Linked DNA regions of Homo sapiens: regions 2 and 3 are each linked to region 1. The links come from fine-mapping of genetic effects on gene expression. A gene starts in region 1. Each other region holds a variant in brackets. All regions are shown on one strand. Distances are between the middles of the regions.

Region 1 (8,181 bases):
CCGTCTCTACTAAAAATACAAAAATTAGCTGGGCATGGTGACATGTGCCTGTAGTCCCAGCTACTTGGGAGGCTGAAGCAGGAGAATCGCTTGAACCTGGGAGGCGGAGGTTGCAGTGAGCCAAGATCGCGCCACTGAACTCCAGCCTGGATGAAAGGATGAGAGTCTCAAAAAAAAAAAAAAGAAGACAATGACTAAACACAAAAACACTTCCTCAAAACAAACTAGGTAGAGATATTACCCACTACCAAACTGACAGAGTCTGGAAAAAAAAAACAAATAAACCATTGTGTCTAAGAATGGACTGAAACTGACACCTTTCAATGGGAAGGCAAACTGGTAGAGCCCCATAGCATGCAGTCTGGCAGTACTTATCAAGAACCTTAAAAATAACTGTGCTCTTTGATTAAGTAATTCTACCTCAAAGAATCTTTCTTAAGGCAATAAATTAGAAAATAAAGAAAGGTTTATACATAAAGAGGTGATAAACATTAATGCTGAAATAATCTGCATTAAAGGGAAAAATAAGGCTGGGCACAGCAGTTCACGCCTGTAATCTCAGCACTTTGGGAGGCAGAGACGGGTGTATACTTGAGGTCAGGAGTTCAAGACCAGCCTGGCCAACGTAGCAAAACTCCGTCTAACTCTGTCTCTACTAAAAATACAAAAATTAGCCAGGTGTGGTGGCACACGCCTGTAGTCACAGCTACTCGGGAGGCTGAGGCAGGAGAATCGCTTGAACCCAGGAGGCAGAGGTTGCAGTGAACCAAGATCGCACCACTGCACTCCAGCCTAGGTGAAACAGCAAGACTCTGTTTCAAAAAAAATAATTAAAAAAAAAAAAAGGGAAAAAGAAAATCTACCCAACAATAGCCACGTAAATTATGGTTAATTCACATAATTGACTCCAACATAGCCATTTTAAAATGTCTATTTTTTTTAAGTAGGGAGAAATGTTTACAAAGTAACTTTATGTAGAAAAAGTCAAAATGTTAAATCAAGCATACAGTACATTCTCATCCATGACAGTTCCTATGGTGTGAGCTACCTTCTTTTTAGCCTTTACTCAGTTTCAGGCACTGTGCTAAAAGTTCTACAAGTACTATTTTGTTTAATCCCAACAAAATTCTGATGTAGTTACTATCATTGTGCCCATTTCACAAAGGAAAAAATGTAGGTTCCAAACTGCCCATGGTCAATTAGAAACTGGCCAAAAGAGGAGGCAAATCGAGATCTGACTTCAAACACTGTATTCTCTTAGCTACTGTATACAGCAAAGAGGAGACTGAGACAGAAGTGTGACAACATGCTAACAGCAGTTCTCCCTCGGTGGTGGGATCAGGAACCATGAAAGATCTTTTCTATACTTTCAAATATTTTTCAAATCTTCACATAATCACAAATTGGTAAAAAGAATGATTTTAAAATCTGCAAAATAACTTTTTTAAGTGTACAGAGGGATTCAGAAGAAAAGTTAGGCAACTTACATTTCCTCATCTTCATCTTCTTCATCCACCCAAACTGGCTTCTTTTGAGGTGGAAAATTACCTTTTGCTTCATTCTCCACTTCTGAGTCACCCGAGTCTTCATGTTCTTGAACCTACAGCAGACAAAACACCCTCAAGCACTGAGATTTTCCTATCCCATGACTGCAGACACATAGGCCTTACAGCCAAATGGCTCATAGAATGTTTTTTCTACCACTCTCTGATGAAATAATGGGATGGAATGCTACCATTGCAAATGCTGGAAGCAGAGGCAGAAAATGGAGAAATCAGAGAATGGCACCGACTGGACAGGTGAGGCAAGATGGAACAGTCAAGGAGAAAAAGTCAACACTCAACACGCAGGAAGGAAAACACCAAGTAAGACAAGAACAAAAGATGAGTCTGCAGATGAAAAAAGGAGGAGAAATGTCAGAACTACAGAAATTACAGGACCGGAGGCAAACTAGAGTCAAAGATATCTCCATTTTCCCAATCTGTTTTTGACCCCCTACCTCCTTAAGAAACTTTATACCAGCAGAGAGCGCAATGCCTCATGCCTGTAATCCCAACACTTTGGGAGGTCAAGGTGGGAGGACTGCTTGGGCCCAGGAGTTCGAGTCCAGCCTGGGCAACATAGGGAGATCTCGTCTCTACAGAAAATTTTTAAATTTAGCTGGGTGTGTGGTGTGCACCTGTGGCCCCAGCTAACTACTTGGGAGGCAGAGGCAGGAGGATCACTTGAGCCTAGGAGGATGAAGCTGACTTCTGAGTTTAAAGTGTTCGGAGAATTGTGCAGGTGTAATTTATCTGTGACCAACAAGAAGAGCAACCAGTTACTATTAGCAAAAGGGAGATGGAAGACTAATAGGTGCCGCTACACTCCAGTCTGGGTGACAAAGTTAGACCGTATCTCTAAATAAGTAAAAAATAAATATACCATTAAATCTAAATTCTAAAGTTATAAATTTATACCATAAAGTTTATACTATCAAATCTAAACCTAGGCCGGGTGCGGTGGCTCACACTTGTAGTCTCAGCACTTTGGGAGGCCGAGGCGGGCGGATCACGAGGTCAGGAGTTTGAGACCAGCCTGGCGAAGATGGTGAAACCCCGTTTCTACTAAAGATACAAAAAAAAATTAGCCAGGCGTGGTGGCGCACGCCTGTAATGCCAGCTACTCCAGAGGCTGAGGCAGGAGAATCGCTTGAACCCAGGAAGTGGAGGTTGCAGTGAGCCGAGATGGCGCCACTGCACTCCAGCCTGGGCGACAGGGCGAGTCTAAAAAAAAAAAAAAATCTAAACCTAGACCACAGAATATCCCTTGAAGTGAGTTTGAGCTTCCCAAAACCAATGATAGAAATGTCCAAGTGGTTTCTACTTGCTCTACTACTAGTCTAATAGCCTTCAAACCCAACAGCTCCCACCTCCGTACACTGTTCCTTTTCCAGACGACAAAACCGTCGCACAGTTCAGCATGTTTCCAGTAATAGTTCTGTACTTCCCAAAAAGATTGCTGCCACTTCTCCTACAAGCACCCGAAGGCGGCTCTGGTAAGCAGCTGACATTAACTAGGTCAGCATTTGTGTAATAAACATGGCCTGGGTAATTCTCGGTGAGCTTTCCTCTGCCCCCTTTATCTAAAATTTCACAGGCCTCTACACACGCCCATCTCCCTTTCCCGAATGTCCTTTTTTCTCTTCAGCACTTGTCACCAACAAACCTGAAGTTTACTCGTTTATCTCCTCTATCTTGTCTCTGCCACTAGCACACAAGCGCCAAAAGGCAGGGATTTTTGTCAGTTTTGTCCATTGCTGTGTCTCCTCCAGTGCCTAGAACAATGTCCGGGACTCTCTCAAGAAAAGCCTGGTATAGAATTTAAAGGGATAGCAAAATGTGTGCAAAAAGTATGATCAATCACGCAGGGTTTGCCATTGCCAGAAAGGGTATCTGGCAACTAACAGGTTCACCAATATTTGCTAAATGAACGGAATACACGATCATTCTCAAAACATGGTGGGTCTCATAGTCACATGGGGACATAGTTACAACGGAGATGCCCAGGCCCGTGCCCACGAATTGATTCCATCAACGAAATCGAATTCCTGAATCACAAGGAACTGAGGCAGGTGATCAAAAGACCACCCTCAGTTTGGGAAGAGGCTAGCGGAGTCGAGCAGCAGCGAAAGATGCTCACGACCACAGTTCGCAAAGCAGATACCCGAGCAGCGGCGCCTCCAGGGGCGGAGAAAGACGCGGTCCCCGCCCTCCAGGCACTTTCAGTCTGGAGCAGGGAGGCGAGGGACCCGCAGCTGCGACCCTCCGCGCCCGCGTTCTCGGGCTCCCTCCCACCTGAGCGCTCCCCGCCGCCGCAGGTCGCCCAGGCTCCGCCCCCCGGAGCTTCACCGCCCACCGCGCGCCCCGCCCGAGTGCGCCCAGCCCGCGCGCCGCGGCCTCCCTCACCCTCGGGCCTCGCAGACGCCGCAGCAACGCGTCCTCGTCGTTCTCGACGTCGCCGAAGACCAGCTCCTCCAAGCACCGCTCCACGGCCGGTTTGTCCTCCTCCAGCCTCAGGCGGTTCCGCTGCCGGAGCCGTCTCTCTTCCTCCGCCGCCGCGACTGCAATCGCAGCGGCCGCCGCGCTCGGCCGGGCCGGCGGTTTCCGCTGGGATGAAGGGGCAGGCTTTTGGGGAGGCCCGCCTGGCCCCGCTCCGGCTTTCCAGTCCGGCCTCATTCCGGGCTTCCGCTTCGGCTTCGCTCCGGTTCTCCGGTCCAGTTTCATTCGTCTCCTCCGCTCCGGCGGCATCGTTAGGTTTGAGGAGAAACGCAGGCGCTCACGTGGAACCTCGCTGCGCATGCGCCCAGGCCCCTCGCGGGCCGCCGCCGCCGAAGCCCCGGGGGCCGGAAGGAGCCTGCGCAGCCTCTTGCCACGTGACCAGCACTCCCTCCCTCTACGTAACTCCCGCTCCCCTACCCAGCCCCGCCCCGTGTGGGAGTTCCTCCGGGAGGGCCAATCTTCCGGGTGTAGGGGGAAGCGGCGTGACTGGAGTGGAAAATTTTTCCAACACAATTTCGCAGCTGCAACATATTGAAAGGAGCGCAAGAAACCCCGACTATACACTGGGACGGCTGAATGGAACTTCTGCTTTTCCTCTTGGCTGTAACCACTTGACTTGACACAAGCCCCAATACGCTTTCCACCCTTCGTCTTGGTACGGTCCTTGGAGTACGGAGCCTGCAGAGGGTCCCACGGTGGAAGCGAGAGAGGAGGGTATGTAGGGAAGTGGGCCAATCGGGGCGCGGGTCACGGCGCAGGCGCGCTGGGGAGGGAGGGCTATGCTAATGTTGTTGATATCCTGGGGCCACCCGAGTTAAAGGGGGGAAATCCGGGGGCTGCTGCACCCGCCACCGGTCTGGGCCCAGCCGGGGGCCCCCTGTAGTCGCCGCAGTCCCGGGGAGAGGCACCTGCCCCCAGCCCGGGGAGGGGGCGCCGCGGGCTCGGGGAGCACGGACAACCCCTACCCATGAGGCCCTGATGGAAAACACAAAGGATCTGGTGAGAGCCGAGCGCGGCAGCCGCTTTGTGTGCCAGGTGGGGGGGACGCCTGCAGCTCTCCGACCCCAGGAACCCCGCAGCTCCCTGACCCCGCTCCCTGGCCTGCTTCTCCATCCCACGCCCTCTCAACCTCCGGAGCCCCCCTCCCCCTTCCAGCCGTTAAACGATTCAGGGGTTCCCCTCCCCCCACCCCGTCAGCCTTGGACTCGTTGGGGTTCTCTCCATCTCCTCCACCCTTTGGAAGAAAAATTCGAGAAGAAAGTTTTTCTCTGCGTCCTGCCCCCGCCCCCTGCTCTGGCTAGGGGGGAAAGGCTGGATCCGAGACTTTTCCTTTTTTAGCCACCCAGGGTGGGAGAGTGGAGTAGTCCTCTCTTCTTGGCGGGGAGGGGGAGCACAGTTTCGTTGCTTTGCAGGGGAAGGTGTCTATCTGCCTTGGGGGCAGTGCCGCGAGGCGGTTTGCACGTGGAGGTGGAAATATTGAAAGGGGGCGGGGTGGGCACGTGCGGGAGAGGTGGGAGTGGTGTTTGGGAAGCAGCCTCCAAGGCTGCATATTTAAAAGGGTTTCAAGTCGGTGGACTTCTGTGACCATTGCGTTCTCCTTTGTGAAATAAGAATCCTAACATTTCAGAGTCGGAAGAGACATTAGAGGTCATCCAAAGCAGCCGTCCCCTCTGCAGCCTCTCTGACAAGTGGTAGGTAGTCTGAACCCTGCTTACACCCCTAAAAGCACTGAGAGCTCACTACTGCCCAGGAAAGCCCATATTTCAGTAGTTCTAATTGTTGTCTGCCTACCCTTATTAGACCCTTCAGTCTCATTCATGTCCTGGTTAAGTTGCTCCTTTTTTTACTTCTCAAATTTTCTCTCACATCCTCCTCACCCACCCACTGCTCATTGGCCTATATTTTGTGTGCCAAGAAAGAACAGCAGGGAAGTGGAGGAAGGGGGGTTGAGAGATAGTGAGGGCTAGCCGAAAACTTTGCTGGGTCAGTGTCAAGTGTGCTGGCTTACATGCCTGAAGATGTTTTTCTACAGGAAGCTAAAGAATTACAATATGGGAATTTCGTGCCTGTTTTCTCTTAGGAGTGCATCTTTTTGAAGTTAGAAATTTCAGCGTCATCTCCGTGGTTCTTGTATCACAAAACACATTTGTTTATTACCTAAATCACTTCTAAGGATGTCTAAAACTGAAGTGGTTAGAAGCATCACCTGGTAGAGGGATGATTAGATGATTACCGCCCACACCCGTATTTGACCTGTGTTCCTCGGAAGCTAGTCTTTCCTCCAAGGGCCTCTCTTCCAAATGCTTTTACTCCTTCTTTTTTTTTTTTAAGTAACTATCTTTTATGAGATTTGAAATTTACGAACCATTTTAATACTTGTTTAGAGTTTACAATATTTTTAATTCTCCTTATATTAGCATGCACCAGTACTTATCACTGGGTGGTTGAGATAGTTGAAACTATTGTCACTGGGTGTTTTTCTAACATTCTCCTTCATTTGGTGAGCTATGCTGCCTCTAAAAGTAGTTTTATTGGCCTAAGAATCTTGGATATACCTATTACTCTCTAATGTGGTGAAGTGGGTGTCAAGACATAACAGGTATAATGTAGAAATAATGCATGTGATTTAAAAGCCAGCAAATAAATTTCACCTTAAGCCCCAGTCTCCTATTTAAAAGGTTAGACTCAATTTTTCTCTCCTCCTCTTATAACTTAGAGACTGTTGCTTTGCTCTTGTGGACTTAGACTGTTATTTTATTTTTCATTTGTTTACCTCAACACCAGAGTGTTTAGAAAGAAAATAGCTGTACTTTTTTTTTTTTTTTGCACCACCTCCTTCTCTGAATAACAAGTAGCTTCTATCTATCTAAAACCCCATACTGATTGCTTGTGAGTACCTTGCAAATTATGGCAACATCTGTCTTGAATAAGTATTTATTCATAGTGCCTTACGTTGTTGCGTCATGCTTTTTAACCATCCAGTTTCTAACTTTATGTAATGTTTGACATAAAATATTTCCTCTAAATCTACTCATTAGAATTCAGCTTGTGAAAAAGAATCAGTAGAGGTGTAATAATAGTGTTTTTAACATTTTAATTAATAAGGAGTTCCAAGTTTTTTTCCTGCTTACTTTAAACATGAACTGTCATGACTTAAGTTGACTGACTTTGGAGACATCTGCATTCTAAACATACTAGACAGGAACAACTGGTTTTATTTTTAAGACGCTGCCATATTCTTTAAAGCTGGTTATATGTTGACCTTATTATCTAAACCTTTCTAGATGTTCTAGTGCTGCTTTTGGTCCCTCAATAATGTTGAAAATTAAAACAACATTTTAAATTGTTTTCAAATGTAACATAGTGATCAAAGGAAAATATAAGCTATAGTTTAAAAGTGAAAACAACATATTAGGATAAATACTAAACCACTGAATTACTAAAAGCCAAGAGTGCTCAGTAGTCTGAGTAACCACATTCTAAAATTAGACAAGTGACATTCTTTGGGTTGCTCTTTGTTTCTCAGCTTTTCATCTTTAAAATGTTTGCTAAATAAGATATAACCTTTCACACTTATGTATCATTAGTCTGAGGGTTTCAAAATTCAAGAAAGAATAAAAACATCAGGACAATAAAAGAGAAAGGACTTACAATAGTTAAAACAAGCTAAGATATTTCTCCTAACACCACAGTATTCTTAACTGTGCAAGATGACTTTTGATTTCAGGCAAAAATTGCACATAGATTTAATCATTATTTTTTAATAAACCTTGGCTTAAGGATTTTTTTACCTGCAAATTTAGGATTTCTCTTCTTGCTTTGCTGGAACCCACAATAAAAGGTGAAAAGGAAATAATTCCCATTTGAACAAACCCTGAATATGAGATAGGATGAAGTGATACAATAAGAGGGGTGCTGGCAGTGAGGTTGATGTCACAATTCTGCCATTGAGTAGCTCCATGGCCCTTGTTGGACAAGATCCTGTGCCTCCATTTTCTCATGGCAGTTGAAGGGTTAGTCTAGTATCAGCATAATCCAATAGAAGTTTCTGCAATGATGGAAATTTCCTATATCTTTGCTGTCCAGTTACGGTAGCCACTAGCCACATGTGGTTGTTGAGCACTTGAAATGTAACTAGTGG
Region 2 (8,181 bases), 610 kb after region 1:
AAAATGGGTTAACTTTGCTGAGGACAACTTAAGAGTTACAGTGGCCACAGTGGGAAAGTTTTGACCTAGATAAAACTGTTCACTTGCAAGGTGCATTAGAAAAGAAAGGTTCAAAAATGCCACAAAAGCAATGGGATGCATTCTTTAATTGATACACAGAGGCATCTAAAAGATTAAATGAATAAAAAATTGCCTCTTTATAATAGGTTCCTTACAGAAATCAAACAAAAAAATCTTAAAAGCTCCTTCACGAATCTTATTCAAAAGCTTTAGTCATCTGGGCAAGAAATCTTGTTCCATTGGCCAGAAGAACAATTTGGATCCAGATAGTCTTTAATAAATTCAGGAGTTTTATATTACTGTACCTGGAACATGGCTAAGATATTTAAATGAAAGCTGTAAGATCTGTTGCTGTTTATGTTTATATAAGTCTGTATGTATGATACAGGTATCATAGTTTCTTATCTCCTTTTAATGCTCCAAAATTAAATTATGAAAGAGCTCTATTTTGTTGGCTTTAAGAAAAATAAGTGCTTGTATAAATGAAGTATTCTCTCAGAAAATTAAGAACTACCTCAAATACTTTTGCAGCTCATCTGACTTGGGTAATCTTTGGCAAATAAGAATATTGTTGGTTTGACTGAAACAGACATGTTTTCATAGTTTTGGGGATTAAATATCATAAAGATGCATGATTTCCTATCTAGGTTTACTGGTAAAACAAGCTTATGTTGTCTTTATATTATAAAATTTGTCAGCAAGAAAAACAAAATGATGACTAGTTGTTTATTATCTCATCTTTATAGGCAATCCAAGCATAAGTGTTGAAAATAAGTGAGTTAAATGAATGTAAGATAAAATTCCCATGTAAAAGATGTCCTTCCTATACCAGAAGGTTTTATTATTACTTTTTTGAAATAGGGTCTCTATCGCCTACTCTGGAGTGCAAGTGGCAAGATCTCGGCTCACTGCAACCTCTGCCTCCTGGGCTCAAGCAATCCTCCCGCCTCAGCCCCGCCAAAGTATCTGGGACTACAGACACAAGCTACCACATCCAGCTAATTTTTGTATTTTTTGTAGAGATGGGGTTTCACCATGTTGCCCAGGCTGGTCTCGAAATCCTGAGGTCAAGTGTTCCACCTGCCTCAGCCTCCCAAAGTGCTAGGATTACAGGCGTGAGCCACCACGCTCAGCCACCAGAAGGTTTTAACACTCTTAGCATCAAGAATAGAAAGTTGAGGAGGAGGGAAATCTGTACAAACAACAATTTAGTTTTCAGGCCTCACAAAACAAACAAACAAAAAACCTAAAGGGATACAAATGAAATTTTGCCTCCTTTACAGTTTATTTTTACAGAGAGACTTAAAGACATTTTGGACCATTGAGAAACATGTTCTGTGCCACACTGACAAATTGTACTATGAGAAAGCTCATGCTTCTAGACATTATGGTTCATAGATTTACCAATCTACAGCTGGTGTGACACACAATTCACAAATGCTTACTTTCTAATGTCCATGGAAATTAAGGTCACTAAGGGTTAAGAATTCTTTTTTTTTTTTTTTTTTTCTGAGATGGAGTCTCGCGCTGTCACCCAGGCTGGAGTGCAGTGGCTCAATCTTGACTCACTGCAACCTCCACCTCCTGGGTTCAGGTAATTCTCCTGCCTGAGCCTCCCCAGTAGCTGGGATTACAGGTGCCCGCCACCACGCCCAGCCAATTTTTGTATTTTTAATAGAGACAGGGTTTCAGCATGTCAGCCAGGCCGGTCTTGAACTTCTGCCCTCAAGTGATCTGCCTACCTCGGACTCCAAAGTGCTGGGATTACAGGCATGAGCCACTGTACCTGGCCGGGGTTAAGAATTCTAATTAATATATGTAGCTACAATTACTAGAAACAATAAGGGGGAAAATCTATATGAAAATATACAAGGAAGGTAAGAAAAAGGAATATATGAAAAAGAAATATACAAAGGAAGCTAAGGAAAAGCTATAAGACGTGAGGATGTTTTGTTTTGATAACGGAAAAAGAGAATAAATTTTGTCCTAAAGTGAAATGACTGATTTTTCGAAAATGAGAAGAGGAAAGTATAGGACAAAAAGTGAATGGATATAAGAGTTGTAGGAGGTTTGTGGAAGATGAATCTTGTGAAAGAAATTTTATGGGTGATCAAGCTGGTTAAGATTAGGAGGTAATTATTTACAAGTTTTTTAAGAATAAAAGTTAGCGACCGGGTGCAGTGGCTCACGCCTGTAATCCCAGGACTTTGGGAGGCAGAGGCGGGTGGATCACTTGAGGTCAGGAGTTCGAGCCCAGCCTGGCCAACATGGTGAAACCCCATCTCTACTAAAAATACAAAAAATAAGCCGGGTGTGGTGGCAGGCGCCTGTAATCCCAGCTACTTGAGAGGCTGAGGCAGGAGAATCACTTGAACCCGGGAGGCGGAGGTTGCAGTAAGCAGAGATTGCACCATTGCACTCCAGCCTGGGCGATAAGAGCTAGCATTAATATCAAAATTACACTGATGCAAAACTAGAATTTGGTTCTCTCCATTAAAACAACATGGTGTTCTTAGATTATTGGTCTGATCATAATAGGAAATTGTAAAATGTTTTTCTTTCTCTTTAGGTAGTTGGCCTAGAAAACAAAGATTCTGTGTTCTACCCAGATAATTTCCTGTGCTTCATGCTGTCTTTGTTAGGTTTTTGATCACTTAAGAAAACTGAGAACTCGCTATTAAAACAGCTAAGCTTTTTCTACAACTATGTAACTTTTTGTATATGCCTCCGAAGTCATTTAATGAACGGCTATTGTTCACAGTGACCTGTGATCCTATTAAAAAAATTTATTTTATGTGTTGCCTATTTCCTTCCTTCCTTCCTTTCTCTCTCTCTCTTTCTTCCTTCCTTCCTTCCTTCTTTCTTTCCCTTCTTCCCTCCCTCCTTCCCTTCCCTCCCTCCCTTCCTTCTTTCCTTCCTTCCTTTCTCCTTTCCTCCCTTCCCCTCCCCACCCCTCATCTCTCTCCTCTCTCTCCTCTCCTCTCCTT[CTTT/T]TTTTGACAAAGTCTCACTCTGTCACCCAGGTATAAAGCTGACTCCATACATAGTGGACTGTAGCATAATTCAATATGTAAACAAACTGCAACGTAACTTGAGAGTATATTCTTACAATAAGCAGCCAAGTCTCAGCCAAATATAGCAGAATTTTCAGCCAATCACAAGCTGCCAGATCATCAGAACATGTCCACATAAGGCAAACACCTCATTGCACCATGCCCAAATAAGGCAAATACTGATCTGTCGCCAATCAAGCTGTTTCTATACATCAATTCCTTTCTCTGTCCATTAATACTGCCTGCCCATACTGCTGGGTGGTAAAACTCTGTGAACCTCTACTGGTTCAGGATGCTGGCTGATTCATGAATTGTTCTTTGCTCAGATAAACTCTGCTAAATTTAATTTGTCTAAAGTTTTTATTTTAACAGAATTTTTCCTCAAATGTGTGGTGACTTTTTTTTTTTTTTTTTGAGATGGAGTCTCCCTCTGTCGCCCAGGCTGGAGTGTGGTAGTACGATCTCAGCTCACTGCAACCTCTGCCTCTGAGGTTCAAGAAATTCTCCTGCCTCAGCCTCCCGAGTAGCTGGGATTACAGGCACGTGTCACAATGCCCAGCTAATTTTTGTATTTTTAGTAGAGGGGTTTTGCCATGTTGGCCAGGCTGGTCTCGAACTCCTGACTTCAAGTGATCCGCCTGCCTCGGCCTCCCAAAGTGCTGGGATTACAGGCGTGAGTCACTGCACCCGACCTGTGGTGATTCTTGCGGCTTGGCTGTCTCAATATTTTGGAGTAAGACACTAAAGAGTTGGCTGCTCTGTGTGTTGGGGGCAGGTGGATTTGGGACTGGATCTGGGACTCCTCAGGGCAATCTGTGAACAATGATGAGTGAGAGTACCAAGGACCAAGGACCAAGAAACAGCTACTGAAGACAGAGTACCGAGGACCAAGCTTATTGGCTGTTGGGCTTCACTGCAGAGTGATCAAGTAGGAACCTGGTCCTTTAGGGAAGACTCCCCCAACAACTGGAAGAATCTGGAGGTCTTTTCTCTGGGACCAATTTAGGAGTGAGGGCTGAGGGTTCTATCCTTCAGTATGCAGACTTTTACTTAATTCCACAGAATAAACTGCTGGTCTTCTGTGAGGTGGCTGGAATTTGCCTGGCTTTGAGAGGAGATGGATAAGTATCTTGGGTGTTTCATCTCTCCTTATGCATTCTCCTAGCAGCCGCTGCTTTCAGCCCTGCTCTTCCCCTTGCCTCCTTCAGCCCTCCAATCCCCGAGCTTTTACAGACTCCAAATGGCCTTTGGTTTCAGTTGTTCTCTGCTGTGTCAGTGATCACTCCTCAACCTGTTTCTCACTTTCCAAAAAGGTGTTAATATCTTGTCTGCTGTTGTCTCCTCTTCTCTTTGTCCTTGTAGGTTTACATTCTTTATTCCTTACTGTCACTTTGATGGAAAATCAGGAAGGACTGGAGATAAAGTCTTGTGTTCAATCCACCCTATAGAACCAGAAGTCCTTCCAACTACAATTTTTTTTTTTCTTTTGGGCAGAGTCTTGCTCTGTCTCCCAGGCTGGTGTGCAGTGGTGTGATCTCAGCTCACAGCAACCTCCGCCTCTGGGATTCAGGTGATTCTCCTGCCTCAGCCTCCCGAGTAGCTGGGATTACAGGCTTCCACCACCACGCCCGGCCAATTTTTGTATTTTTAGTACAGACGGGGTTTTGCCATGTTGACCAGGCTGGTTCTCAAACTCTTGACCTCAGGTCATCCACCCGCCTTGGCCTCCCAAAGTGCTGGGATTACAGGTGTGAGACACCATGCCCAGCCTCCAAGGGCGAATTAAATAGACCCGTTTCAGACTTTATGCAGGACCTCCCTGCAACAGTGTGGGCTTCCCCCATCTCTTGGAAACTACTCTTTCCTGGTCTCCTGGTTTCTTGGCAAGCATTCCTTGCTGTCTCCTTATCTTCCTTCCAGTTCACCCTGTGGACATGGGCCCTAGCTCCCAAGTTCAGACCTTGGTCCTTGGTGCTCTCTCTCATCATTGTTCACAGATTGTCCTGAGGAGTCCCAAATCCAGATCAACAGCTCAAATCACCTCCTGAGCCTCAGCGCCTACTTCCTGCTGCCTCTCAGATGGCGTCACCATCTGTCTGCAGCCACCTCATATTCAATACCTCTCAAAGTAAGATCCTTCACTCCCTGCCAGAACCAGCCCTTCCTTTGGCCTTGCCTGCCTCTGCCAAGGGCATCACCATTCTGCCAGCTACCCTGACACCTGTAGGGACATAGGTCCTATTGATTCTTGATGGAAGCATAGTAGCTGGACAAAGAGGTGTTTGAGACTTGGCAGGGAAAGGTTAAGCACCTTGGCCAAGGTCACACAGCTTAAAAGAACTCACACTTGGCCGGGCACAATGGCTTACACCTGTAATCCCAGCTCTTTGGGAGGCTGAGGTGGGAAGATCACGAGGTCAGGAGTTCGAGACCAGCCTGACCAACATGGTGAAATCCCGTCTCTACTAAAAATACAAAAATTAGCTGGGCGTGGTGGCAGGCACCTGTAATCCCAGCTACTCGGGAGGCTGAGGCAGGTGAACTGTTTGAACCCGGGAGGCGGAGGTTGCAGTGAGCTGAGATTGTGCCACTGCACTCCAGCCTGGTGACAGAGGGAGACTCCGTCTCAAAAAAATAAAAAATAAAAAGAAGAAGTCACACTTAAGCTGTGTGATCTTGACCCAGGTTCTTAACCTCTCCCCTCTCTGGGCCTTGGTTTCTTTAAGGGTAACATTGGGATGATAATATCTCTTACCTGGTTCCTCCCACCTGGCCCCTTGGCCAGACCCTCATCTCTTCATGAGCAATTGCCATAGACTTCTGGTCTCTTCCCTTCAGATTCCCTGGGGTCCCAGATCCTGCATGGTTTTCCCCTTCCTTTCTGGCCATGCCATCACAGTCTCTTTGCTGATTCCCCTGCCTGGTGCAAGAGGGTCCTGGAGCTCAGTCCTTTCCTCTTCTCTGCCTCCTTCCTATCTGCACTCAACCTCTTGGCAATCCCATGCAGTCTCATATGATGATATGATGTACCATCTATATGCCAATGACTTTCAAGTCTATCTCTCCAGCTCATTGCTCCCCAAATCTCCAGCTCCATATCTAACTGCTGACTTGACATCTTCACTCCATACACCCTACAATAGCCTGCATAGACCTGCACAATGTCCCTTCCCCCAACCCATGACCCTCTCCCCGCCTTTCCTGCTTCACTCCAGCCACTGGCCTCCTTGCTGTTTCTAAATGCACTTGCTGCTCCTGTCTCAGGGCCTTTGCACTTGCTCTTCTCTCTTCCTGGAACACTCCTCCCCCAGACATCCTGAAGTCTTTCTTTCTCAATGAAGCCTACCCTGACCATCCTGTTTAATACTGCCACCTGTGTCCCACCCCTGTATTCCCAATTCTCCCACCCTTCTCCGCTTTTTCTTTTCTCTATAACACCTATCACCTTTTGACATGATATATAATTTACTGATTTATTATATTTTCTCTCATCTTTTCCTTTACTTGCTGACATGTAAGCTCTTTGAAGGGAAGAACCTTTATTTTATTTATCTATGTATCCTAAGTACTTAGAATGGTGCCTAGCACATAGTAGGTGCTCAGAAAAAAGATTTGCTTAAATAAATCAAATATTTATTGAAGACCAGGGACATTGCCCAGTGCTTTGAGAGGCCAAGGCAGGAGCATCACTTGAGGCCAGGAGTTTGAGACCAGCCTGGGCAACATAGCAAGACGCTGTCTCTACAAAAATGTAAAACATTAGCCTGGTCTGGTGACAGGCACCTGTAGTCCCAGTTACATGGAGGCTAAGGCGGGAGGATCTCTTGAGCCCGGGAGTTTGTTGCTGCAGTGAGCCATGATTATGCCACTCCACTCTAGCCTGAGCAACAGAGCAAGACCTGGACTCTTAAAAAAAAAATACACACACACACATACACGTTTATTGAATAAATGAATGAAAGAATAATAGTATACCATCCCTTTAAACTTTCAGTAGCTCCCTACTGCCTAGAAGGCAAAGTTCAAACATTTTACTATGGCATTCAAAGCCCACAGCTGGCCTTGAACTATCTGGCTATGTGAACTGTTGAATAATCTATATGCTTGAGTTCTGAGTTCTCCCATCTTTTTTTTTTTTTTTTTTTTTTTTTTTTGATGGAATCTTGCTCTGTCGCCCAGGCTGGAGGGCAGTGGCACAATCTTGGCTTACTGCAACCTCTGCCTCCCGTGTTCAAGTGATTCTCGTGCCTCAGCCTTCTGAGTAGCTGGGATTACGGGCGTGCACCACCACGGCTGGTTAATTTCTTTCTTTTTTTTTTTTTTTTAAGGCCAAGTCTCGCTCTGTCACCCAGGCTGGAGTGCAGTGGTGCGACCTTGGCTCACTGCAACCTCTGCCTCCAGGGTTCAAGCGATTCTCCCACCTCAGCCTCCTGGGTAGCTGGAATTACAGGCACATGCCACTACGCCAGGCTAATTTTTGTTTTCTGTTTTTTTGTTTGCTTGTTTTTGAGACGGAGTCTCGCTCTGTCGCCCAGGCTGGAGTGCAGTGGCGTGATCTCGGCTCACTGCAAGCTCCGCCTCCCGGGTTCACGCCATTCTCCTGCCTCAGCCTCCTGATTGGCTGAGACTACAGGCGCCCGCCACCATGCCCGTCTAATTTTTTGTATTTTTAGTAGAGACGGGGTTTTACCGTGTTAGCGAGGATGGTCTCGATCTCCTGACCTTGTGATCTGCCCACCTCGGCCTCCCAAAGTGCTGGGATTACAGGCATGAGCCACTGCACCCGGCCTTGGTTTTTGTTTTGTTTTGGTTTTGAGACGGAGTCTCACTCTGTCACCTCGGCTGGAGTGCAGTGGCACGATCTCAGCTCTCTGCAACCTGTGCCTCCAGGGTTCAAGTGATTCTCCTGTCTCAGCCTCCCAAGTAGCTAGGACCACAGGTGCACACCACCACACCCAGCTAAATTTTGTATTATTAGTAGAGATGGGGTTTCACCATGTTGGCCAGGCTGGTCTGGAACTCCTGACCTCAAGTGATCTGCCAGCCTCAGCCTCCCAAAGTGCTGGGATTA
Region 3 (8,181 bases), 93 kb before region 1:
AAGGAATTGAGATCAGTATGTCAAGGAGATGTCTGCATCCCATGTTCATTGCCACATCATTCACAATAGCCAAGATCTGGAAACAACCTAAGTGCCTGTCAATGAATAAATTGATTTTTTAAATGTGGTGTCTATATATACAACAGAATATATTCAGCCTTGAAAAAGAAGAAAATTCTGTCACTTGCAACAACATGGATGAATCTAGAGGACACTATGCTCAGTGATATAAGCCAGGCTCAGAAAGACAAATACTACACATGATCTCACATATATATGGAATCTTTTTTTTTTTTCTTTGAGATGGAGTCTCACTCTGTCACCCAGGCTGGAGTGCAGTGGCGTGATCTCGGCTCATTGCAACCTCCAACTCCCGGGTTCAAGCAGTTCTTCTGTCTCAGCCTCCCAGGTAGCTGAGACTACAGGCACCTGCCACCACACCCAGCTAATTTTTGTATTTTTAGTAGAGATGGGGTTTCACCATATTGGTCAGGCTGGTCTCGAACTCCTGACCTCAAGTGATCCACCCGCCTCGGCCTCCCAAAGTGCTGGGATTACAGGCATGACCCACCACGCCCAGTCATGTATGGAATCTTCAAAAGCTGAACTCATAGAGTAGATTTTAGAAGTCCTCATCACAAAAAAAAAGATAAGTATTGAGGTGATGGATATGTTCATTAGCCTGATTTGATCAATTCTACAATGCCTACATGTATGGAAACATCACATTGTACCCCATAAATATATATGATTATTATTCATCAATTAAAAGTTTACAAATTAGCCAGGCATGGTGGCTCACGCCTGTAATCCCAGCTCTTTGGGAGGCTAAGGTGGGAGGATCACTGAAGGTCAGGAGTTCAAGACCAGCCTGGCCAACATAGTGAAACCCTGTCTCTACTAAAAATACAAAAATTAGCTGGGCACGGTGGTGCGCACCTGTAGTCTAAGCTACTCGGGAGGCTGAGGCAGGAGAATGGCTTGAACCTGGGAGGCAGAGGTTGCAGTGAGCCGAGATCACGCCACTGCACTCCAACCTGGGAGACAGAGTGAGACTCTACCTAAAAAAAAAAAAAAAAAAAAGTTTAAAAATTAAAGTGGATTAATTCTGAAAAAATAAAAGGAAAGCAGATAGGCATCTGGAAGAGGTACCAGAACTTCCCCATTCCAAGGTTACTTATCTCAGAGTTGTGAATGGATGTCTCGGGGTGATGCTGTAGAACAAAGTGATCAAGGACAAGCAATGATTCCCAAACCCTCACCTGGGATCTAGAGTGCAAGACCTACCCTGTGGGCAATCAGGAGAGATCAGTGAGCAGCTGTCCTCACCCTTGGGTGCCCACCTCCTTTCTTCAACCTTACAAATCTGACCTGTGGATATAAGGTCTAAAACCCCCATCGACATAAGTCTGATTTTCTTTCTGTTCTGTCTGCAACACAGAAAAGAAGAGAACCTTTTAGGGCATTTAGAAAAATGATAAATTCCAACAAGGTTTGAGATTAATTGCATTTTTCATTTTTTATTTAACTCTCTTTGCTTTCTATGGCTATAGGAAAGTGTGAGTAGTCTATAAGGGCTGTCCCTTAGCCGAGCATCATAATCTTTGCTAATTCAGGACCATGACATGCATGGAGGAACAAATGGATAGTTACATAGATAAATTGACTATTGGTGGGTAGATGAACTGGTAGATAAATAATGCTGTAAAGAGAGAGGAACAGAGACAGGGAGAGTAAATTTTAAACAGTCAATCAGCAAGGCCAGGGCTGGAACAAACACCATCTCCCTAGAATTGCCCAGAAGAAGAACGTGGCTTCTGGAAGGCTTCTAGGAATGTACATTGAAGAATATTCAAACTGCCCAAAGAAATAGCAACAACAACAACAGCAACAACAAAAATCAGTTATCCAACTACAAAAGGGTGAACAGAATAATTATGAACCTCAGGAATTAGAAGAGGAAAGAAAATGGAAAGACAGACTTATGAAAAATCTTAACACTTCTATCTACTGCCACGTTCAAAGTAAAGTCCAAACCAATCAGCAAAACTCCTAAGAGGAGCCTGCGGCTGCGAGAAATCTTTCTGAGGTCACTGAGTCCCTACCCTGCCTGAGGGAGGCAGAGCTGTTCCTAAGTCGCCCTCCCCTGGAACAGAAGCTCGGATCCCAAGGGCTGATTGATTCCTGCGCCTTGGAGAAATACTCTTTAAAATTAAAGAATTACTCGGCAGGTTTTTTCCTCTCTTGCCTAGTCGTGCATTATTACCAAAAGGGAGAATAAGCTGCAACTGTCAGGTCCAGCGGCTCCACCCTCAGTCTAGGAAGGAGCTCACGTGTGCACTGTCATCAGACAGATTTGTCCCTAGAGCCGAGATGTTCTCCGCAGTGTCGGTTATAATGCCCAGAAAATTAAATCCAAGGCTGCTGCTGTTTCTGCAGACTGGCGCTGGTCAGTTACAGGCAGGGCAGGGAAGAAGCAGTGGATGGAGAAAGTAATCATCTGTTTTGAATTAGGGATGGCAGGGAGGCAGTATGGGAGCGGGAGGAACATGCACAGATCTTTGGGTTTTCATTTCTGCTTTGCCAGATGGCCACTGTGTGCCTGTAAGCAAAGGACCTCACCCCTCTGTCTCTCTGAACTTCCACTTCCCCATATACAAAAAGAGATAGTAGTGCCTATCCCCTGAAGTTATTTCAGGATTAAAGATTATGCATAAAAGGGCCCATCCCACAATCCGTGAAAGCTGTCATCACGGTCATCAGCCCCTGCCTGGCTCTCAGGCCTGCTCCGCTGCTCCAGCCCTGCCCACAGCTGAGGCTTCTGACTCCACATGCAGTTTCTTCCCCTCACTTCCCTCCAAAAGGCAGCTCCAGACAGAATGTGTCAGCTCTGCCTCAGTCTTCCTTGCTACTGTGCCAACTCTAATGAGGTGGCTCCAGCATTACAGGTGGCCTTTGACGTGGTGTCTGCCTCTAGTTTCTTGGCCTCATCAACTATGCAGTGGTCTTACTGAGCAACTGCTAACTCGGGTCCCTTCTGAAACAGACATCCTGCCTGGCTCCTGCCTTACTCTCAGTCTCCCTCCCAGAGACTGGACTTCTACTCTGAGCCCTAGTCTGATGACAAATGCTTTGCTATTCAAAGAGAGACCTCTGCGCTGACAGAACCCTAAGCATCTCCCACACCAGGATCCCTGTTGCTGGACTCTGCCCATGTCAACCCCCACCACTTGGTTCAGTCCCACCCTTGTTGCAGGCTGCCTGCCAGAGATCAGCAGGCACCTCCCTCCTTCCTGCCAAATCTTTCTCCCTCTGCAGAATGTGATTTGGTGGAATAGACACAAATTATAGAATCAGACTGCCCTGAACATCTATGTGTGACCTTGGGCAATTTCTTCACCTCTCAGAACCACATGTATAAAATGAGGATAACAACAGCCTCATTGGGCCATGGAGGAAATTCAGGGAAGGACGTGCATTGCAAGCCTGGCACTGTGCCTGGCATGGGGGCAGTGCTCCCTAAAGGCCCACTCCCCTTTGCCTCCTCCCATCGCCAATGGCCTGTAACTGGTCATGTCCACCTGAATCCAGAGGTAGAAAATGGTCATTAAAACAAATTGTCACTTGATTCTATAAGCCAGGTGGCACATGACAGCCATTAATTTTTCACATGAAAAATGGCTCTGCTAATTGAAAAACATCAAAAAGATTGAGGTTTACACAAATGTTCAGCTCTGTTTATTTTTTCTAATTTACTTTTCAGCAGTCAGTAAGAACTTAATGAGCTCTCATTTATGGCTTCCTCCCTATTTATAGATATTGGCGCCTGTGGTGTTCTAGATGTATATACTGAGAGCATTCAGCCTGGGCTACATGGCCAGTAGGGAAGAGTTACAATACCCAGGTAAATTCCAGACAGGAATTACTGCTCCTCAAAAACTTAGCTGATACACTGTTCATTAAGAAAACGCCCTGCTACTTTACATTGGCTGGATACTGTTTTCCTCTTCTTGGGAAAAATTTTTCTAGCTGGAAGTTTCATTTGATATGACATGAAAATAGTTAACATTTATGGAGCAATTGCTCGGTTTCAGACACCGTGTTGTGCATGGTATGTGGATTCTTTCATGCTTGTCATAACACTGAGGAAAATACCCTTATTAACCCTGTTTCCAGATGAGGGAATTAAGATGTAGGGGAAAATGTAAAATGTTGAAACCCAATTTTCTCTGGGTCCAGATTCCATATTTTTATCATGGCATCTACACAGCCATACCCTCTTTTCAACAAGCAGAGAGCCAACTGGTGAGTTCTGTCCATTTGAGGAGAGACAGATA[C/T]GGGAGAAGAGCACTGCGCCAAGAGTCAGGAGACATGAATTCAAGTCCCACATCTTCCAAGAGTCCTCAGGACCTTGAGCATGTCCCTCACCATCTCTGCTTTGAAGTTTAGAGGTCTGGGATAGGGCTGGAGCCAGAACGCGGGCACCAACCCTTCTTCCCCTCTCGCTGACCAGCTAACAAAGACAACAAGGGGAATTAGAGTTTCAGATTTATTAATGGCCAGTTTTATACCCCCAAACCACCCAAAGTAGAGCCCTCTGACAAAGCTGGAATGGCAAACACAGATTAGACTCAGGCCAAAGTGGACGCCTCTGACTCCTGCCCCAGGTCTAGACCTTGGAACCCACCAGACCATGAGGATGCCCCACCTGGCCAGGCTTGGAGTGAGAACAAAGGTCTTTGAGTCCTGGGGCAAACAGCTCAGAAAGATAAAGTGGAGCCTCTTTCCCACTGCTGAGGCACCAGAAACCCTGCCCAGCAGCAAAACATGACTCAACCAGTCCTCTAATGAAGAGAAACAGGAGGGCAGAGAGAGGAACAGAGCTTACACGGCAGTCCTTCCCTGAGCGGGGAGATGTAAAAGCAGAAGTTCTCACCCCCATGGGCCAAGGTGGGGGTCGGCAGAGAGGAGGAGAAAGATCCCCCTAAAATTCTTGACCTGTAAACTAAAAGGCTGGACCCCTGAAGCAAGAGGCAACACTGATGAATGAGAGGAATGGCTGCCACTATGCAAAGTGAATGGATTCAAGAAGTTGGATTGTACCTGACTGCAGACTAGAGACACAGCAGTGGGAAGGTTGGCACCTCTGGTTTGGAGAAACTGAGGATGATCCCTTTGAGTTAAGGACACTGTCTTATTCATTCTATATCCCCCACACCCTGCACTGATGGAGGCTGGCTCAGGGTCAGGCTCAATCAGTGTCTGTTGAACTAATGAGAGAATGAATAGAAGGGCTGTGGTTTGGCATCTCCTGAGACAACGAGCCCACAGAGCTGCTCTGAGACATGATTCATAAGCCTTCTGGTGCTGCAGGGATGGTCACTGGTGTTGTACCTGTTCATTTTGACTCCCAGTCACATATTAACAACCAAGATGGCAGCAGTTCTCACAATAGCATTTGTGGGGAGATGACACAAATAGAAATAAATTACTTCTAGAGATCAGCATGTTACAGCACAATCACTTGTATAACTGCATACCTCAGGCCTTGGGAGTAGAATCGAAATTTAGCCTGGAACCCTGGGCTCCCAACTCGCATTTTGGTGCTCCTTTCCTCCACCACAGAGCGCAGCAGAGGCTGCCGTACAGGCAGAGCTACATACAGCACCGGACTCAGTGAAGACCCCATCTACACTCAGGCCAAGAACTCTTTTTTTTTTTTTTTTTTTTTTTTTTTGAGGCAGCATCTCACTCTATCACCCAGGCTGGAGTGCAGTGGTGCAATCTTGGCTCACCGTAGCCTCAAATCCCTGGGCTCAAGCAATCCTCCCACCTCAGCCTCCCAAGTAGCTGGGACTACAGGTGTGCACCAATATGCCTGGCTAATTTTTTTATTTTTAGTAGAGATGAGGTCTAGCTATGTTGCCCAGGCTGGTCTCAAACTCCTGGGCTCAAGCAATACTCCCACCTTGGCCTCCCAAAGTGCTGGGATTACAGGCTTGAGCCACCACACCCAGGCAAGAGCTCTTCTTACAAACTGGTTTTTTCAACACTCCTAACCTTGCCATCATCCCACAAGTAACAAATAATCAAAATCCTCTTCTTGGACTTCAAATACAAGCACCAGGAATACACAAAAATATATGCATGAGTTCTCTTGCAATCTTATGTTGACAACTGAACCAGTGAGTTCAGGCAGCTAGTAAGCAGCTGAACTGGGCTGCGGTCCCAGATATTCCCTGAGCCAAGGCCAAGGAAAAGCTTTTTCAAGAATGTGATGTTTAAGCTGAGCCCAGGAAAATGAATAAGCAGGAGTTAGCTTGGGGAAGGGGATGAGATGGAAGCTCCTACAGGGAGAGGGAGGAGCACTTTCAACATCCTTGAGGTGGGAGCGCTTATGATTTTTCCATCAGACCACGCTGCCTCACAAAACCTCATTTTATGAATGAAAAGAGGACATCCCCCAGAACAAAAATCTTGTATCATATCACGGGAAAGGAAGGAAGGGGCAGGGAAGGGGAGGAGGGGAGAGTGGAGGAGATCGAATTCTTCCCCTTTCCAATATGATAACATCCTTTTCAGCAGATCACTCACCTTGGGAGATGCTCCATTAAAAACAGAGTTCTAAGACCAAATAAATTTGGGAAATAACCACATAGCTATATCCTCCTCTTGACAAGTCATACAGCTCATTAACCATTTAAAGACCTTGAGAAGTCCTGCAGCAAAGAACATGAGTTTCTCCAACCCATTTGACTACTTCTTCAATCAATACCTATTTAACATTCCATAGGATATACGTCAAGGAAAGCCTTCCATAAATTAACTTCAACAGCCACGTGGAAAGTGCTAACTCCGACCTCAGCCCCAAGGACCAAAAGCTCTTTAATACCACAGTCTATTGCACCAAGTTTCCTATGCAGTCCCGTGAGCATCGCAAGTGCCCTGGTCAAGCCCCAGGCTTAAAGCACCCATCCCCAAGACAAGGGGCATGTGGAATGAAGCACACGCTCACTATTTGATCTCTGGGAAAAGGGAGGAGGAGGCATGGCTTGAGCTGGCTTAACAGAGATTTACTTCACCGGCATCCTTTGGAATGGATATCCTGCATGATTGAGCCGGGCTTTGTTCAATTCTCAAAGCAATTTGCCAGGAGTGAGAAAGGAGCACTTAGAAAAGCAAGTTGGTCAGTCCTGGATGATTACTTCTTATTCCAAAACAATTACCATAAAGGTAAAATGGGTTATGTTGCTGTAAAAAATATGACTCTCTCCAAACAGTAACACATGGATTCCCAACCGGAGCCATCAAGGCCACGGCCAAAAGCAGGCCGGGCATAGGAACTCGGGGGAAGATGCTTCTGCCTGTCAAACAGTACTGGTTTAAAACAGAATTAACACAGATAAAGGAGGGCTAGATAAGTAGGGGTTGTGGGGGGCAGTGATGGGGTGCCCTGAAGACAAGTACCTCCTTAGCAGCCTGAGCCCATCCCTACAGAGTACTCTGAGATGTAAAAAGACAAACACCCAGTTTCCTTCTTCTTCTGCCTCAACCTCCAGACCTACTGGACCTCCTAAAAGAATAGGGCTAAGTAGGATTTCTCAACCTCAGCACTGCTGACATTTTGCTTGGGTAATTCTTTGTTGTGGGGGGCAGTCCTGTGCATTTTGGGAAGTTTAGCTGCAGCCCTGGCCTCCACCCCAAATACCAATAACTCCCTCCTCCCCACCCAGTTGTGACCATCCAAACTGTCTCCAGACATTGCCAAATGTCCCCAGGAGGTAGGAAGTACGAGCAAAATCATGCCTAATTGGGAACCACAGGACAAAAGCAATATGGACATGGGAGAAGGAGCCAACCAAGTCTTTGGATCCAGCCCATCGCCAAGAGAAAACTGTGCTCAAGACTGGCCTCTCCAAGAGAGCAAAGAAGAATGCATCCAGAAGTTGTTGCTGTTGGCCCCTTTCTGGGCACTGATGGAACAAGAGGGGTCTGAGTGCCCAGTCACTGGCATCACAGCCAAGTGCCCAGCCTGCTCCATAGAGGACAGCCAGCATAAGGGATAGAGCCAAAAGACACCAAAGAGCCTTCCTGATAAGCCAAGTCATTCTAGGCAGCCACTCCCCTTACCTAGCCTTGCTTCCAATCATTCCTTTGCTGGTTGAAAGAAGACAAGTTAAA

Direction of the effects. Alleles are on the strand shown, and positions count from the first base shown. SD is a standard deviation of normalised expression in the study named. Not every link is listed here.
For the expression in naive CD4 T cells of the gene that starts at base 4,825 in region 1, CTTT is the high allele of the variant in region 2 and T is the other (moderate effect, 0.63 SD a copy in Schmiedel 2018).

Evidence for each region. PIP is the estimated chance that this variant, and not a neighbour inherited with it, causes the effect.
Region 2: its variant is fine-mapped to the expression of MBTD1 in naive CD4 T cells (Schmiedel 2018, PIP 0.90).
Region 3: its variant is fine-mapped to the expression of MBTD1 in whole blood (TOPMed, PIP above 0.99).

What each region holds. Positions count from the first base shown.
Region 1 is chr17:51,256,693-51,264,873 of GRCh38, reverse strand. It overlaps MBTD1 (mbt domain containing 1), which reads left to right and starts at 4,825. Exons shown (of 17, transcript NM_017643.3): 1 at 4,825-5,039; 2 at 5,668-5,731. It overlaps UTP18 (UTP18 small subunit processome component), which reads right to left and starts at 4,328. Exons shown (of 14, transcript NM_016001.3): 1 at 3,948-4,328; 2 at 1,488-1,600. The coding sequence starts at 4,289. RefSeq lists an enhancer at 3,258-3,307 and silencers at 3,778-3,967, 4,318-4,427, 4,768-5,087.
Region 2 is chr17:50,644,455-50,652,635 of GRCh38, reverse strand. All of the region lies in intron 1 of ABCC3 (ATP binding cassette subfamily C member 3), which reads right to left. Among named protein-coding and RNA genes, the nearest start is that of ABCC3, 14 kb to the right of the region's middle. The variant CTTT/T (reference allele first, on the strand shown) is at 3,048.
Region 3 is chr17:51,350,138-51,358,318 of GRCh38, reverse strand. No RefSeq gene overlaps it. Among named protein-coding and RNA genes, the nearest start is that of LINC02072, 18 kb to the right of the region's middle. The variant C/T (reference allele first, on the strand shown) is at 4,338.